2 separate regions of the Homo sapiens genome follow, and region 1 is linked to region 2. A link means that fine-mapping ties the variant in region 2 to the expression of a gene that starts in the linked region. Tissue or cell type: whole blood. Region 2 holds a variant in brackets; the other region holds the start of a gene. Each region is shown on its reference strand, or each on the opposite one. Region 1 holds the start of H3C4 (H3 clustered histone 4). Region 2 overlaps NPAT (nuclear protein, coactivator of histone transcription).

Region 1 (8,311 bases), not on the chromosome of region 2:
GGGAAGTTGAAAAATAATTATGGGACGGGTGTGGTGGCTCACGCCTGTAATCCCAGCATTTTGGGAGTCTGAGGATGGTGGATCACCTGAGGTCAGGAGTTCGAAACCAGCCTGACCAACATGGTGAAACTCCGTCTCTACTAAAAATACAAAAAATAGCCGGGCATGGTGGTGCGCGCCTGTAGTTCCAGCTACTCGGGAGGCTGAGACGGGAGAATCGCTTGAACCCGGGAGCCAGAGGTTGCTGTGAGCCGAGATTGCGCCATTGCACTCTACTCTGAGCAACAATAGCGAAACTCCTCCTCAAAAAAAAAAAAAAAGTAATAATATAGAATACTATTCCTTTTTTCTTAACTGGGTTGAAATTCTAAGAATCTTTTATATATAATATTTTAAATATTTTTAAGATACAAAAACATTTTGTAAAAATTTTAAGTATTCTACACTGGATGCCATTCATAACAGTTTATGATCTTAAGTAAGGCTTGTAATTACCAAGAATACAGTAAAACTTCAGTATCTTTATATATGAGTATATAGAATAGAAAAATTGTATTTGTAAGTAGAATGACATAAATTATTTTTTCACTTAAAAATTACAACTTTTGCTTATTAGAATAAAATGAACACATATGAAGTCAACCCTGAAGGAAAAAAAGTCAAAAACAACTTTGAGGAAGTGACAAGAAAATATTTTAGGATTAGGGGTGTGTCTCATTACTCCCAAATGGTATTTTGCCAGTGGCCAAATTTTCTTTAACTAAACCAAGAACAATGTTGATTATTAGTGCTGCATCCAGGCTCGGGTGTTCACATTTTTTCAGTTTTCATGCACATTACTTGTCTTGCTTTCCTTATATTTTAAAGAATTTGATTACATTATTTTAACCAGCTAAATTCGCCAATGCTGCGATGACTAAACCGGAATTAAGGAAGACATTCCTTTCCCTCACACTATGTCAGTAGCAAAAGAGATATTTCAAAAGTTCTTTTCTTATGAAACCAATTTGACAAGGGACACATCACAGCACAACATAAGAAAAATGTGCTTATCAGCACAATGGGCTAGCCTTCTAACCAGCACTTGGGGTAAAACAAACATGCTACGGTTAAGTATAGCATTTTCCTTCAACCAGTCAAAAGAACTGTGGTCTAGACCTACACAGCAGCAACCCCCTCAAATGAGGATAAAACCAAACCTGTTGGTGGTAAACACGGAAAATATGCAGGTAATTACAACTCTATAGCTGAAAAAGTGGGTGGCTCTTAAAAGAGCCTTTGGGATTGGGTATGAAGACGTTAGAATTACTTAGAGCTGGTGTACTTGGTGACGGCCTTGGTGCCCTCTGACACGGCGTGCTTAGCCAGCTCCCCGGGCAGCAGCAGGCGTACGGCCGTCTGGATCTCCCTGGAGGTGATGGTGGAGCGCTTGTTGTAATGCGCCAGGCGGGAAGCCTCGCCAGCGATGCGCTCGAAGATATCGTTGACGAAGGAGTTCATGATGCCCATGGCCTTGGATGAGATGCCGGTGTCGGGGTGGACCTGCTTTAGCACCTTGTACACGTACACGGAATAGCTCTCCTTGCGGCTACGCTTGCGCTTCTTACCATCCTTCTTCTGCGCCTTGGTCACCGCCTTTTTGGAGCCCTTTTTTGGAGCAGGAGCGGACTTAGCAGGTTCAGGCATGATAAATAAACACTTCGTCCACAACCTAAAGAGAAATGCAAGTGTCCTCACTCTGCAGCTGGTAATATTTGTAGAGCTCCTATCGTAAACTGGCATTTAAAAGCTTACACATTGATTGGATGAATTGTCTCTGTGTGCCCTGTGGTATGCAAATTAGGTGATTCTAGCGTTTCTTTGCAATTGGTTGGTTGTTCTAGCCAATCAAATAGCGTTATTTACAATTCGACCTCCAAGTATAATAGTTTCTCACTTGCTAACAAAATTCACTTTTACATTTTTGTCTTCATTGCTTAACATCGTTTTTAAGAATTCAAAATGTCCGGACGCGGCAAGCAAGGCGGAAAGGCCCGAGCTAAGGCTAAGACCCGCTCTTCGCGGGCCGGACTCCAGTTCCCTGTGGGCCGCGTACACCGCTTGCTCCGCAAGGGCAACTACTCCGAGCGAGTCGGGGCCGGCGCGCCAGTGTATCTGGCGGCGGTGTTGGAGTACCTGACCGCCGAGATCCTGGAGCTGGCGGGCAACGCCGCCCGCGACAACAAGAAGACCCGCATCATCCCCCGACACCTGCAGCTGGCCATCCGCAACGACGAGGAGCTAAACAAGTTGCTGGGTAAAGTCACAATTGCTCAGGGCGGTGTTCTGCCCAACATCCAGGCTGTACTGCTCCCCAAGAAGACTGAGAGTCACCACAAGGCCAAGGGCAAGTAAAACGAGAACTCTTATATTGGCTTTTTAAGGAAGCAGTCTTAACAAAGGCTCTTTTCAGAGCCACCCATGTATTCCTTAAAAGGGCTCACATTTTCTGTGTAAATAGCTATTTTGCAGTTTTCTTTAATAATTTTTCCATTTATAAGTGGGTGTTCTTAACACTGAATCGTGAAACTAACCGTCCATTTTAAAGATGCCATAAAAATACATAAGCAAATTGGCGGGGCGCGGTTCCTTACGCCTGTAATCCCAGGACTTTGGAAGGCCAAGGTGGGCGGATCACAGGGTCAGGAGTTCCAGGACAGCCTGACCAACATGGTGTGAAGCCCCGTCTTTACTAAAAATAAAAAAATTTGTCGGGCGTGGTGGCGCGCGCCTGTAATTTCAGCTATTTAAGAGGTTGAGGCAGGAGAAAATGTTGAACCCCGGAGGCGGAGGTTGCAGTGAGTCGAGATCGCGCCACTGCACTCCAGTTTCGGCGACAGAGCGAGACTGTCTCAAAACAAACAAAAACCCAAAAAAGCAAACTAATTAAAATGCAAAGAGACTTTATGTCACATGTAATTTAAATCGATCAATGCAGCGGCTCGTTAGGATTGCAAAGCTGTTAAAAGGCCTGAGACATACAGGAGAGAAGTTAATGTTTGTCAGTGTTTACATTTACATAAAAATATAGTTAGTGACTTAAAGCAACAGAACCAGAACAAATGTTTTATTGTCTTTTGTATGCATCTTAATGATACGAAATAACCTGTAATTTGTAAGTATTTTTTGGGTTTGTTTTTGCAAGCCACTTTCAACTCTACTGAGCTAACCCTAATTAATTATCAATAGGAATACAAACCTACATCCCCTGGAGCCAGACGGCCCTTAGGTGGAGCTTCTTAGCACAGTGTTCAGCATGACTAAAAGGGCACACTGGTCTTTTTGTGCCATTTATAAATTTGGCTTTTTTTTTTTTTTTTTTTTACAGCAGATTACACAAATACCAGTTGAACTTGTAAAAGATAAGAGTGCTTTCATATGAGGATGACATATTGTGGTGAAATTAAATGTGTTCATGTAGCTTAACATCAGGTTTCATATTGTTACTTATGAGTTAATAGTCATGGTGCATTTGGAACAAATTATTGAAAATATCTCCAAGTTTAAATAGACAAATCAAGATATGAAATTAACCTTTCTAAACTTAAGAGGGTAAAAAGAAATCACTTGGCCAATCACAACTAGCGCGCGTCTTTTTAAAACGTTGATCAAAGCCAGTTTCAGCGCCAACATTTAAAAAAAAATTAAGACACGTCATCCTAGTAGCTAGACACAATTTTGCCAAGGAAAACCAAAGTACGTTTTAAATAAAAGCTAGAAACATGGCACAGAGGGGAAAGGGTTGAAAACACCAGCAGTTAAAGATGGACGGAGGAAAGTTTTAATATTTGGTCTACATGCAGGAGATGTTCTGTCAGGGAGTGGGCGTCTCCACCAATCGAGCTGCAGGGGAAAGGCTGCCTTGTCCAATCAGAACAGGGGTGTCTTTATATATACGGGTACGAAAGGCTAGACTTTCGTTTTTTCGTCATTTAGCAGGGTTTAGAAGTTCGCAATGGCTCGTACCAAGCAGACTGCTCGCAAGTCCACGGGTGGGAAAGCGCCACGCAAGCAGCTGGCCACCAAGGCTGCTCGAAAGAGCGCTCCAGCCACCGGCGGCGTGAAGAAGCCCCACCGTTACCGGCCCGGCACGGTGGCTCTGCGCGAGATCCGCCGCTACCAGAAGTCGACCGAGCTGCTGATTCGCAAACTGCCATTCCAGCGTCTAGTCCGTGAGATCGCGCAGGACTTCAAGACTGATCTGCGTTTTCAGAGCTCGGCGGTGATGGCGCTGCAGGAGGCCTGCGAGGCCTACCTGGTGGGGCTGTTTGAGGACACCAACCTATGCGCCATTCACGCCAAGCGAGTGACTATCATGCCCAAGGACATCCAGCTTGCTCGCCGCATTCGTGGGGAGAGGGCGTAAATTGTCTTGTGAATGTGTGCTAACCAAAACCCAAAGGCTCTTTTCAGAGCCAACCACCTTTTCTATAAAAGTTGCTGTTTACTGTTGCTGTCCGTAAACTGGAACCTCTGTTCACTCAAGGTAAGTAAGCATTCTTGCCTCTATCCGTTCCCCCTCCCCTCACGGAATTGGTGCAAAAAGCTTTATTATAATTGGGGAGTTCTTAAAACAGCCTTTAAGGTACTCTTATATCTCCTTGTTTTGGGGGCCGCTTTCTTAGGCTTGGATGCCTCCGGCTTGGGAACTTTCTTGGCCACCTTTGACCAACCAACCTTCTCCAGCAGCCTCCACCAGCAAAAGCTTTTGGGGTCCGCTTAGTACTCTTTTTCGGAATAAGGACGCCCCAAGCTTTCTTGGGCCTCTCGGCTGCCAGGACAGCTGTCTTGGGCATGACTGCAGCGGCTTTTCTGGCCTCGGTCTTGATTTTCCTAACACTGCCTGGTTTGGCGGGAATGAACCTGAGGCGCTGCACTCCTTAGCACGAAGATGCCCTCGTTTGTTTTCAAGGCCCAACTTTATTCAAATAATTTTTAAAAATTTGTATTTATTTTTAGGGACGAGGTCTCACTGTGTTACCCAGGCTGGCCTCAAAACTCCTTAGCTTGGCCAGGCGAGGTGGCTCAGGCCTGTAATCACAGCACTTTAGGATGCCAAGGCGGGCGGATCACGTGATGCCAAGAGTTCGAGACCAGCCTGCCCAACACATTGAAACTTCGTCTCTACTGAGAATACAAAAATTAGCCGGGTGTGGTGGCACACGCCTGCAGTCCCAGCTACATGGAAAGCTGAGGCAGGAGAAGGGCTTGAACCCGGGAGGCGGAAGTTGCAGTGAACCGAGATCACACCACTGCACTCCAGCCTGGGCAGCAGAGCTAGACTCCTTCAAAAAAAAAAAAAAAATCCCCAAGGACAAACAAAACCACCAAAAACAACTCCTTAGCTTAAGAGATTCTCCCGCCTTGGCCTCACAAAATGCTGAGATTACAAACGTAGGCCACCGCGACCGGCAAGGGCCGATCTTCATATCGTAGCCGCCAACACCTACTTGAGCGCGGCCACAGAGAAGGCCGCTGCGCTTCTTGGAGACGGCTAAGTCATTAGTGATGAACTCACATACCGGAGGGGCCTGGACATCTTGCACTTCACTGCAACTTCGGACTTGCAACCTTTTTCTTTACTTCAGTCTTTGACTTGGGAGATAGACCAGGAGTCACGGCATGTACAGTTTCGGACATGATTGTAGGTTTGGATATCTAACAGTTAAAAAAAAAAAAAGTCAGGCTGCGAGTGTGTCTGTGATTACGTGTGTGTCACACACAGACACGCTGCGCGCTGATTGGTTCCCAGCTCAGTCTTTCAGCTTGGCAGCAACCTAGTCTCAACCCTGTTTCTGAGTTGTGTTTGCGGAAATTCAGAAAATCAAAATAGTTTAAATTTCCTGAGGAGGAATCACACCAATTCTATTCTACAATGAACTGGAACGGCTACGGTGTTATGATCTTTACATTTTCTTTCTCTAGTTTTTACTTAAGGCAGCCTCGGCCTTTATCAAAAGTTCCAACTTTCAGAGATTCACAGTTCAGAGGGACAACTTCTTGATTTTCATTTAAAATATAAATTCTTCCATTCGTGTCTTCAATTGTTTGCTGTCTTCTAATAATAGCCTACACATTTTTGGCTTCTCATACATTGAACAACTACTTGATTTTCATTGAGATTTAACGAGGAAATCTGTTTTATATGAGAAGAGAAACAACAGGTTCTTTTTGAATTTCTCCACAAGAACAGCAGTACGGATACTTAGAACAACAGCCCTTTCTGATAAAATTAGCTGGGGCTGAAAATATTTCATGATAGCTTCTTGTAACTATTTGGACGTTTAGTTACTTTGGGAGGGTTCCAGTAAATGTTCAACGTTTCCTTGGGAAAATGGGAAATACAATGATCACTGATTCTCCTGATATTGGGACTGTTTGCATAGCTGAACTCAGGAGAGATCCACGAAAGGACATAAAAGAGACAGAGTTTGACTCATTTAAGGGTCAAAAAAAAATTTTTTTTTTAAATTTTTACTGGGGGAAATTTGTTATTAAAATATTCATGAGTCTTTGGGTTCAGGGGTCTGTCATGCTTGGTGACACGGGGAAAATAGACTTTGGTAAACTATTCAAGTACCAGGATCAAAGAATATACACACAAGCACCACACACACACAAAATTCCCTAGAGAGAGAAATTTAAAAAACAGCCATGTTTCATATTCAGTACTACATTTCTTGTTTAAACAAGGATATAGGCTTATAGTGATGAAGTACAGCTTATGTTCGATATGAGAAGAAAATGGAGTGATGGCAGAAAGTGAATTAACTGATTTTCTTCACTCCTCAATGTCTTGAACGTATGCTGATCTGGGGAGCATATACATTTCTGTTTTACTAAGACTATGAAGGAGATAAATGCTGGGAACAGACAGAGTAAAGCCCAAAAGGTGAGGGTTTCACACTTTTTGATCTCATCAAAATACAAATGACTTCATGTAGCAAATTAAACTAGGACATGAACAAATTAATAAATGTTAATAAAAATTAAAATCAAATGTTTGAGATGAGACATGAGCTAAATATGAATCACATTTACTTTGAGTGTGTATTCACTTTTTATGGAGCCCATGTATTTCTAATCTTAAAATGGCTTTGACCCATTTTATATTTATATTTTATACTTATATTTGATTTCCTGGAGCACCAACAAAGGAAGAACTGACTTGTAGCCTTCCAACTGCAGGAATTCTCTGAGGTACTGTCCTATTTGCCTTCATGGGTTTGTGAGTTAGTTTCTTACAGGTAACTAAAGTCTCTCCCTTCAGGCCTGTCCTCTTGCCTAAGTATCAAAGTTGGATTTCTGGATGGTTGCTGGATATCTGCTTGTTCATCTTCTATACCAGACTCTCAGTATGACCATCCTTATCTAAGTAGCTTCTGTCTAAGATTGCTGGATATTGGCTTCATTGTTTACGTATATCACACCCTCAACATATCCAACCACATCTAGGAAGCAACCTTTCAAGTGACATTCCTATATATTCTGTTCACAACAACACTATTGCTTTGTTAACTGACACTTCAATTATTCCCTTTCCTTTGTTGCCAAATCCAATCTGTTACTAAGTTTGGTGAATTCTTCCTAAATTCATCTTTCCTTGTTTATTTGCCTTTTCATGGTTGTAATTCTTGCTCTTCTATCTCTTCTTTGGACTGGCTATTTTTATAGCCTTCTTATGGGTGGCTCCTTTCTCTCATCCCTTTGTGCTGTCATTCATTCTCTTCATTGCTCTGGGTGAAATATTCTTCATATGAGCTTCAAATTTATATGCCCCATCTCCTTGTAGCTTTATGTTTTCTTCACTTAACTGGTTTTCTCTATTCTTATAAGCCGTGAAGAAAAAGCTGGATTCATATAGCTTTAGATTTAAGAATAATCTTAGTATGGCAATCAAACTCTTTTATATGGCCTTAAATCAACAATCTGGCAGTGTGGTTTAGTAGAAGCATGGAATTTGCAAACATGATGACATGTATTTCAGTCTTGTTTTGCCCCTTAGCAGCTATGTGATCTTGGTCTAATTATATTACCTTGCAGAGTATCTTTTTTCAGTTTTTTTCTTCTTTTTTTCTCTCTCCCCCACCCTGTTTTAAACTTCAAACTAATCTAATGACATACTTTGAAATTTTTATATTTTTCATTCCCCATCTCTCAAAATAGATGAGATCTCTCTCTGTTTTGAATTCTTACATTGATGTCTTTCTTTTTTTTCTCTTTTTGAGATGGACTCTCACTCCGTTGCCCAGCCTGGAGTGCAGTGGCGTGA
Region 2 (8,339 bases):
CAGGAGAATCACATGAACCCGGGAGGCAGAGGCTGCAGTGAGCTGAGAATCGCACCGCTGCACTCCAGCCTGGGCGACAGAGCAAGACTCTGTCTCAAAAAAAAAAAAAAAAGGAAATACTCTTTCCTTACTCATATCATACTCTTTTTTTTTTTTTTTTTTTAAGATCTTCTCATACAGTGCCTCCTTTATAATTTTTTCTCATGGTACCTTTTGTTCCTATGCTGTTACAGTTTTTACCATGCTTTCTTATGACTTTCTGTTCTATAGTTGGTTCCTTGACTAACCTCTCCAAGATTAGAGATTGGATCATTCATCTTTGTATCCCAGTAACCAAGTATGGTTGGTCTTCAGTAAATATGTGTTTAATGTTAAACAGTACACAATGAGATCAAGTGTCAATCATGCAAAATGTACTTGGCCCCATCTCACCTTTAAGAATATGTCAGATAAGTTGGGTGTGGTGGCTCATGCCTGTGATCCCAGCACTTTGGGAGGCCGAGACAGTAGATAAATTAAAGTCAGAAGAAATGTTAGAAGTTGAAAAGTTAGTGTTTCAAAATAAACTTCATTTTTGGAGCCAGTATGTTTTTTACCTATTGAAATATTAAACCTCTTTACTTTTTCCTTCTTTGTATCATCTGTCTTCCAAGCTTGGAAAACAAATTGACACTTGTGTAAAAAGTCATCAGTAACTAGAAAGTACCTGTAAATTTTTTGATACTCAGTAAATGGGAAACACAGCGTATCAGACTTCCACTTACTGGTATGCAAAGATGAGTTATTTTCTTGGCAAAATAAGTTTTATGGCAAAAATGACTACCTCAGAAGCTGAACATATTTACCATATCTGTCTACCTGCCTGATACTTTGCAGATGGTCAGTCTGGTCAGCCCGCTTTTTGTACATCCTATCAGAATGATGACCCATTAAATGCTTTGAAGAATAGCAACAACCATGATGTGCTTAGACAAGAAGACCAGGAAAATTTTTCCCAAATAAGTACCAGCATACAGAAAAAGGCCTTTAAAACAGCTGTACCCACTGAACAGAAGTGTGACATTGACATTACCTTTGAGTCCGTGCCTAATTTGAATGACTTTAACCAAAGAGGGAATTCTAATGCTGAATGTAATCCACATTGTGCTGAATTATACACCAATCAGATGTCCACTGAAACTGAAATGGCTATAGGGATTGAAAAGAACTCTTTGTCTTCAAATGTACCGAGTGAATCTCAGTTACAGCCTGATCAGCCTGATATACCAATAACTTCATTTGTTTCACTTGGTTGTGAAGCTAACAATGAAAACTTAATTCTCTCTGGGAAGAGTTCTCAACTTTTATCCCAAGATACTTCATTAACTGGAAAGCCATCTAAAAAAAGTCAATTTTGTGAAAATTCTAATGATACAGTAAAACTTAAAATTAATTTTCATGGTTCCAAGTCATCAGATTCTAGTGAAGTTCACAAGAGTAAAATAGAAATTAATGTGTTAGAACCAGTTATGTCACAGCTATCAAATTGCCAAGATAATTCTTGTCTTCAAAGTGAAATACTACCTGTGTCTGTTGAAAGTTCACATTTAAATGTATCTGGACAAGTAGAAATTCATCTTGGAGATTCGCTGTCTTCTACTAAACAACCATCTAATGATTCAGCATCTGTTGAGTTAAATCATACAGAAAATGAAGCTCAGGCATCCAAGTCTGAGAATTCACAGGAGCCTTCATCTTCTGTAAAAGAAGAGAATACTATTTTTCTCTCTTTAGGTGGAAATGCTAACTGTGAGAAAGTTGCACTGACGCCTCCAGAAGGCACTCCTGTAGAAAACAGTCACTCTCTTCCTCCAGAATCTGTGTGTTCTTCAGTGGGAGATTCTCACCCTGAGTCCCAAAATACTGATGATAAACCTTCTAGCAACAACTCAGCAGAGATAGATGCATCAAATATCGTCTCTCTCAAAGTTATCATTAGTGATGATCCATTTGTTTCCTCAGATACTGAACTTACCAGTGCTGTTTCTAGTATTAATGGAGAAAACCTGCCAACTATAATCTTGTCTTCTCCTACTAAATCACCTACTAAAAATGCAGAACTAGTTAAATGCCTATCTTCAGAAGAAACTGTAGGTGCTGTTGTATATGCCGAAGTAGGGGATTCAGCCTCAATGGAACAGAGTCTTTTAACATTCAAATCTGAAGACTCTGCAGTAAACAATACTCAGAATGAAGATGGCATTGCTTTTTCAGCTAATGTTACACCATGTGTTTCCAAGGATGGAGGATATATACAGTTGATGCCAGCCACAAGCACAGCTTTTGGCAATTCAAATAACATTCTGATAGCTACCTGTGTGACTGATCCAACAGCGTTAGGAACATCTGTAAGTCAGTCTAATGTAGTGGTGTTGCCTGGAAATTCTGCACCTATGACTGCTCAACCTCTACCACCTCAGTTACAGACACCACCAAGGTCAAACAGTGTATTTGCTGTCAACCAAGCTGTGTCACCAAACTTTTCACAAGGTAACTTTAATAACATAATTGAAATTTGTTTCTCTGGGTTGGGATCTAATTTCTTTTGTATGTGATGTTATTGACTGCGAAGTAATAACTAATGAGTAGATGGTATGAGAAAAGATTCTGAAATTTGTGATTACGCTGCTTCTTTATGCTAGCTAATTCAAACCTTTTTTATTTTTCTTAATCTGCTAGTAAGCTATGGGCTTTAGTGGTTTTTCTTTTTTCTTTTCACAAATACTTCTCAATCTATGTGCTAGTAAGTTACAATAAACAGAAAAGACAGACTAATTCATCACATAGTTGTATAAAACCCAATGTTGTGGGGGAGTTTTTAAAAATAGCTCTTATAGTCATGGTCTTCAGGGAATTCATCATCTTTTTGGAGAAATTTTCAAGAAAAACTTGAATTTCAGCCGGTTATGGTGGCTCACGCCTGTAATCCCAGCACTTTGGGAGGCCGAGGTGGGCCGATCGATCACCTGAGGTCAGGAGTTTGAGACCAGCCTCGAGAACATGGTGAAACCTCATTTCTACTAAAAATACAAAAAAATGAGCCAGGCATGGTGGCAGGTGCCTGTAATTACAGCTACTTGGGAGGCTGAGGCAGGAGAATCTCGTGAACCCAGGAGACAGAGGTTTCAGTGAGCCAAGATCATGCCATTGCACTTCAGCCTGGGCAACAAGAGCGAGACTCTGTCTCAAAAAAAAAAAAAAACTTGAATTTCTTCCTTTATAAAATCCTTTCTAATTGATCTCTGTCTTTAAAATCCTTTGTTTATGGCTGGGCTCAGTGGCTCATGACTGTAATCCCAGCACTTTGGGAGGCCGAGGCGGGCAGATCACCCGAGGTCAGGAGTTCAAGACCAGCCTGGCCAACATGGTGAAACCCCGTATCTACTAAAAATACAAAAATTGGCATGGTGGTGGGCACCTGTAATCCCAGCTGCTTGGGAGGCTGAGACAGAAGAATCTAAAGCTGGGAGGCAGAGGTTGCAGTGAGCCAAGATCGCACCACTGCACTTCAGCCTGGGTGACAGAGTAAGACTCTGTCTCCAAAAAAAAAAAAAAAAAAAAAAATCCTTTTTTCATAGGGGCTCTTGTGGCATTTATTGCGTGCTGTGTTATATGTAGTTAGTGATTGATATGCCTATCATATTGATAATTTTTTATTGTATGTTCCTCAGAGATAGTGCTCATGGCACATTTATTTACATTTCCTTATGTGTTGGTTCCCAAGCTTCCCTCTTTTCCCTTTTTGTTACATTATAGACATACAATAAAATTTCATTAAATATCAACAATTAGTATTAAACCTAATGGGTCTGTTTTACGTGCTGTTACAAATTACATAAAGGAGAGGTCAGAATTAATAGAGAATGTGGGGCTTGAGCTAAAGCTTAAAGAATGAAGGTAGGATTTGGAGTTAAAGCAAGGAAGTTTTTATAACTTATAAAATCTGTAAGTTATAAAGAGAAGCAGCACCAGCATAGACAGAGAGACCGTAGTAGGTTGCATGAAAATGAGGGGATCAACCTGACAGTAGTGTATTAGGCAAAAGTTTGTTTATGGACAGGACTAAATTACAGTAGCCACAAACTATGTTGTTGACTTCTGAGGACCATGTAGACATTGTAATTTTCCCTCCATAGTTTTGACCAGTTACGTGCTTACCTTACCCCCTTTTGATCAATACCATTGAGATATGTAATAGGTTGGGGTTACAAGTGTAGTCCTGGGTATAAATATTCAGTTGGGGTTGTAATTTTCTGGTGTAAGGTTCAGACTTGAAACATTCACCACTCATTTTCTAACTAGTTTCATTATTTCTAGAGGAATCCAGATATGATTGTAATATGATGTCTTGGCTGTAGAGTCTTATGCTTGATCAGCATGGTTCACTGACTGAATAACATTAAGACCACCTTAATATTTGGATTGACTTTTTCTTAATTTGTTAGCCTTGCTGTTTTTCCTAAAACTGTTTCAGTTTCGTTTTTTTTGTTTTGTTTTGTTTTGTTTTTGGAGAGTGGATCGTAAGGAAGAGGGATTGTTCATAGAATTTATTTCAAAGCAGTAATTAATTTGTGCCAAACATTTGTTTGTTTTGTGCCAAAACATTTCAGAGAAAATCTTTTTTTAACAAGAATTGTTTTTTTAGGATCTGCCATAATAATTGCCTCTCCAGTCCAGCCTGTACTCCAAGGAATGGTAGGGATGATCCCAGTATCTGTGGTTGGACAGAATGGAAATAACTTTTCTACTCCTCCTCGGCAGGTAAGATTTATGAACTGAAAATGGTGTGGTGATGCTTTTCAAGCTTAGTGTAATTAATGGCTTTTTCTCTTCCAGGTTCTTCATATGCCTTTGACAGCACCTGTATGCAATAGAAGTATCCCTCAATTCCCCGTCCCTCCAAAATCTCAGAAGGCTCAGGGACTAAGAAA[C/A]AAGCCTTGTATAGGTACCATTTTTAATTTCATTAATGTTAACTTTATGTTTGTATGTTCATTTGTTTGCAGCAACACCTAAATGTTTTCTTTCTGAATACCTAAACCATTTTAAAACAAGTGATCACCCTACATTTGCTAGTAACAGATGTCATAATGCAGCCAACTGTTACTGAACAGCTTTGGTTCTGAGAAAATTGTCTCCTTTGTTGAATCTGTTAGCTTTTGCCCAGTAGTCCTTGGTTTGTTCTTTGCAGCTTCCCTAAATTAAGTATAGTCCCTATTTTTCCCAACAGCTTTCAAGTGTTTAATGAATGCCTCGTATAATTGTATGAGACTTTAGAGCAGTTCTTCTTGTAGTTTAGTGTGTATATGAACTATTTGGGGATTTTGTTAAATGCAGGTACTGAATTGATAGGTCTGGTACAGCACCTGAAATTCCTCATTTCTAACAGCTTCTAAGCAATGCCAGTGCTGCTGGTACTGGACCACACTTGAAGCAAGGCTTTAAAGTTTGCAAATTACCTTCCTGTGTTCCCTGTTTTAGCCATTGTCCCAACCATCTGTTTACTTGTGAAAAACCTGGTAGTCACTCTTAAAACACATTTTCCTCTCCTTCTTAGTTCAAGTATTTGTCATTTTTCATCTAAGTTGTATCAATAGTGTCATGTAGTCTCCCTTCTTTTAGTCTCTGTTGTTTCAGTTCACCTCATATCTGCTGGCTGAGTGACTTTTTTTCCCTAAAATACAAATCTGAATATGTTGCTTTCCTGCCTAAAAACTTTCAGCAACTCCCCTTTGCCCAAAGGATAAAATTGAAATTTCTCAGGGTGACATATGTGCATACATTTGTCATCTAGTCACTCTCGACCTCTCCATCTCATCTCTTACCACTTCCCAGCATGGACCCTTTGTACAAACTATAGTTGCTGCTCACCTTATACTTGGTGATCTTTCTTGTCCCTGTACCTTTTACCAATGCTATCTCTTCTACCTAGAATTCCCCCTTCTTACCCAACTCTTACCCTCAATCTGGTTCTTATTTATCCTTCGAAATTAACTTAAATGTTCCTAGGAAGCATTTTTAACCAGCGGTGGCTGAGGTGGATATTCCGGTTTTATTTTTTTCTTTAATTCTTAGTGATACCTATGCTACAGCACTTAACACATTACATTGTATTTCTTCTCAGTAGTCTGAGTATCTTAAATGCACTCATTATACAGAGAACTCAACTAACTGCTATCAAATCAGCCTTTCCTTAAACTAAACAGTATACATCTATTGATGTAGGCTTAAGTTGCATTTTGACTTATTGAGGCACCCTCTTAGACTTATGTCCTGTTATAGCTACTCTATATTATTTTTATGTTCTTTCTTATAACTAGTTCATTCCTTTTAATGGCCATTTGATATCTATCACTTGCATAAATGTATTTTATATATGTCCTATCAGTGGACTTTTCAGATGTTTTCGATGTGACATGCAATGATATGAGGAACATCTTTGTAAATGCCTCTGTGTGAACCCATATGAGAGTTTCTTTGGGGGCTTATTCCCAGAAATCTTTGGGTATACTGGGTATAATAGAGAAGAAGTATATCTTCTCTATGACCCAGAATTTCTGAGTCATAGAGAAGAAAATTTATACTTCTACCATTATTTTCCCTGCTTCCCTCACAACACTACCAATATTTGATACCATGTGATATTTTAACTTTTGCCACTATGATGGATTTAAAGTGGTAGTATCTCATATCATTCTTTTACTTTATTCTGATTACTAATAAAGTTTGGAATCTTCTCTTATAACTATAAATAATATTTTCCCTTCTGTGAATTGCTTATTCATATCCTTTTCCTACTTCTCTATTAAATTTCCTGTCTGTTGAGGTGTTATACTTTTATTAGTAACATATCACAGATGTCTTCACAGTCTGACACTTGTTTTTATCCCTTACAAAGTTGATACCAGAAAAAAACATTGGTGAGGTTAAGCATCCATTTATGATAAAAGCTCTTAAAGGCTATCTATAGTAAACATCATGGGTTCCCTTTAAAGCTGTGAATAACACAAAGATACTCATTCCCACCCTGTATGTAATAAGCCAGTGTTTCCAACACCAGTAAATTAATTATTAAGTAATCAGTTTTTTGCCCCACTGACATCTGATTATACTTCCACCATAAACAAGGTCCCATACATCCATACATATGTGGTTCCAGACAATACAGTAAGAAAATGGAGCTGGGCATGGTGGCTCATCCCCATAATCCCAGCACCTTGGGAGGCTGAGGCAGGAGGATTGTTTGAGTCTAGGAGTTTGAGACCAGCCTGGGCAATATAGTGAGACCACATCTCTAGAAAATAAATTTTTTAAAAGTAGCCAGCTGTGGTGGCAGATAGTAGTCCCAACTATTCGGGAGGGTGAGGCAGAAGGATTGCTTAAGTCCAGGAGGTTGAGGCTGTAAGTAAGCCATGATCATGCCACTGCATTCCAGTCTGGGCAACAGTGAGACCCTGTCTCAGAAAAGAAAAGAGATAGGTGTAAAGATTTGAAGAGAGGGAATTAAACTGTTATGGAAAATGATGTGATTTTTACACAATAAAGCCACAGGGAGTTAATAGAAAAATTAATAGAACTAATAATTCAGTAAAGTTGCCAGGTATGGTTAATTAAAATTGTGTTTTAGGTGCCAACAATAAACACCTATTAAGTGTTATACAAAATAAGATACTGTTTATAATGACCACAAAAATGATAAAGTATAAAGGAAGTAACCTAACCAAAAATGTTAGAAATGGAGAATATTTGAAATCTTTCATAAAGGATGTATAAATAGAAGAGAACCATGTTCATAGATTTGAAAATTTAACAGTGTAAAGATTGCAATTATTCCAAGTTGAATCAAAAATTCAATGTAATTTTCCTTAAAAATCCCAGTAGAATATTTTGGGAGATGGGAAAAACTATAAAATCTATGAGAAAGAATAAAAGTCCATGACTAGCCAAGATAGAAGAGCAGAGGACAGACTCATTCTACCAAATGGTAAAATATTGCAGAGCCACAGTAATTAAAACAAAAAGACAAATGGAACAAGATAGTTTAGAAAGAGACCTTGTACATGGTAATGTTAACATCAGAAGTCAGAGCAAGATGGATGGTATAATATATGAAATGTATTGATCATTAAATATACAATATATAGAGAAGAAAGTAGATCCCTTCCTCATACAAAGATGAAGTCCAAGATGATTAAAGACCTAAAAGTAAAAAGTCAAACAATTAAATGATAGAAGAATGTATAAGAGAATATTTTTATGACATTAGGATAAAGGATTTATTTATTTTTTTATTTTTTTTTAGA

What was found.
Region 1: it holds the start of H3C4, and the variant in region 2 is fine-mapped to the expression of H3C4 in whole blood (TOPMed, PIP above 0.99).

Annotation. Positions count from the first base shown.
Region 1 is chr6:26,192,934-26,201,244 of GRCh38, reverse strand. It overlaps H3C4 (H3 clustered histone 4), which reads left to right and starts at 3,959. Exons shown (of 1, transcript NM_001376937.1): 1 at 3,959-4,461. The coding sequence starts at 3,995. The coding sequence ends at 4,405. It overlaps H2AC7 (H2A clustered histone 7), which reads left to right and starts at 1,952. Exons shown (of 1, transcript NM_021065.3): 1 at 1,952-2,461. The coding sequence starts at 2,002. The coding sequence ends at 2,394. It overlaps H2BC7 (H2B clustered histone 7), which reads right to left and starts at 1,729. Exons shown (of 1, transcript NM_003522.4): 1 at 1,257-1,729. The coding sequence starts at 1,686. The coding sequence ends at 1,306. It also overlaps the pseudogene H1-12P. RefSeq lists enhancers at 1,288-1,377, 1,369-1,988, 2,148-2,327, 1,261-2,460, 2,508-2,577 and 7 more.
Region 2 is chr11:108,166,389-108,174,727 of GRCh38, reverse strand. It overlaps NPAT (nuclear protein, coactivator of histone transcription), which reads left to right. Exons shown (of 18, transcript NM_002519.3): 13 at 877-2,529; 14 at 4,685-4,800; 15 at 4,876-4,984. Among named protein-coding and RNA genes, the nearest start is that of ACAT1, 49 kb to the right of the region's middle. The variant C/A (reference allele first, on the strand shown) is at 4,971.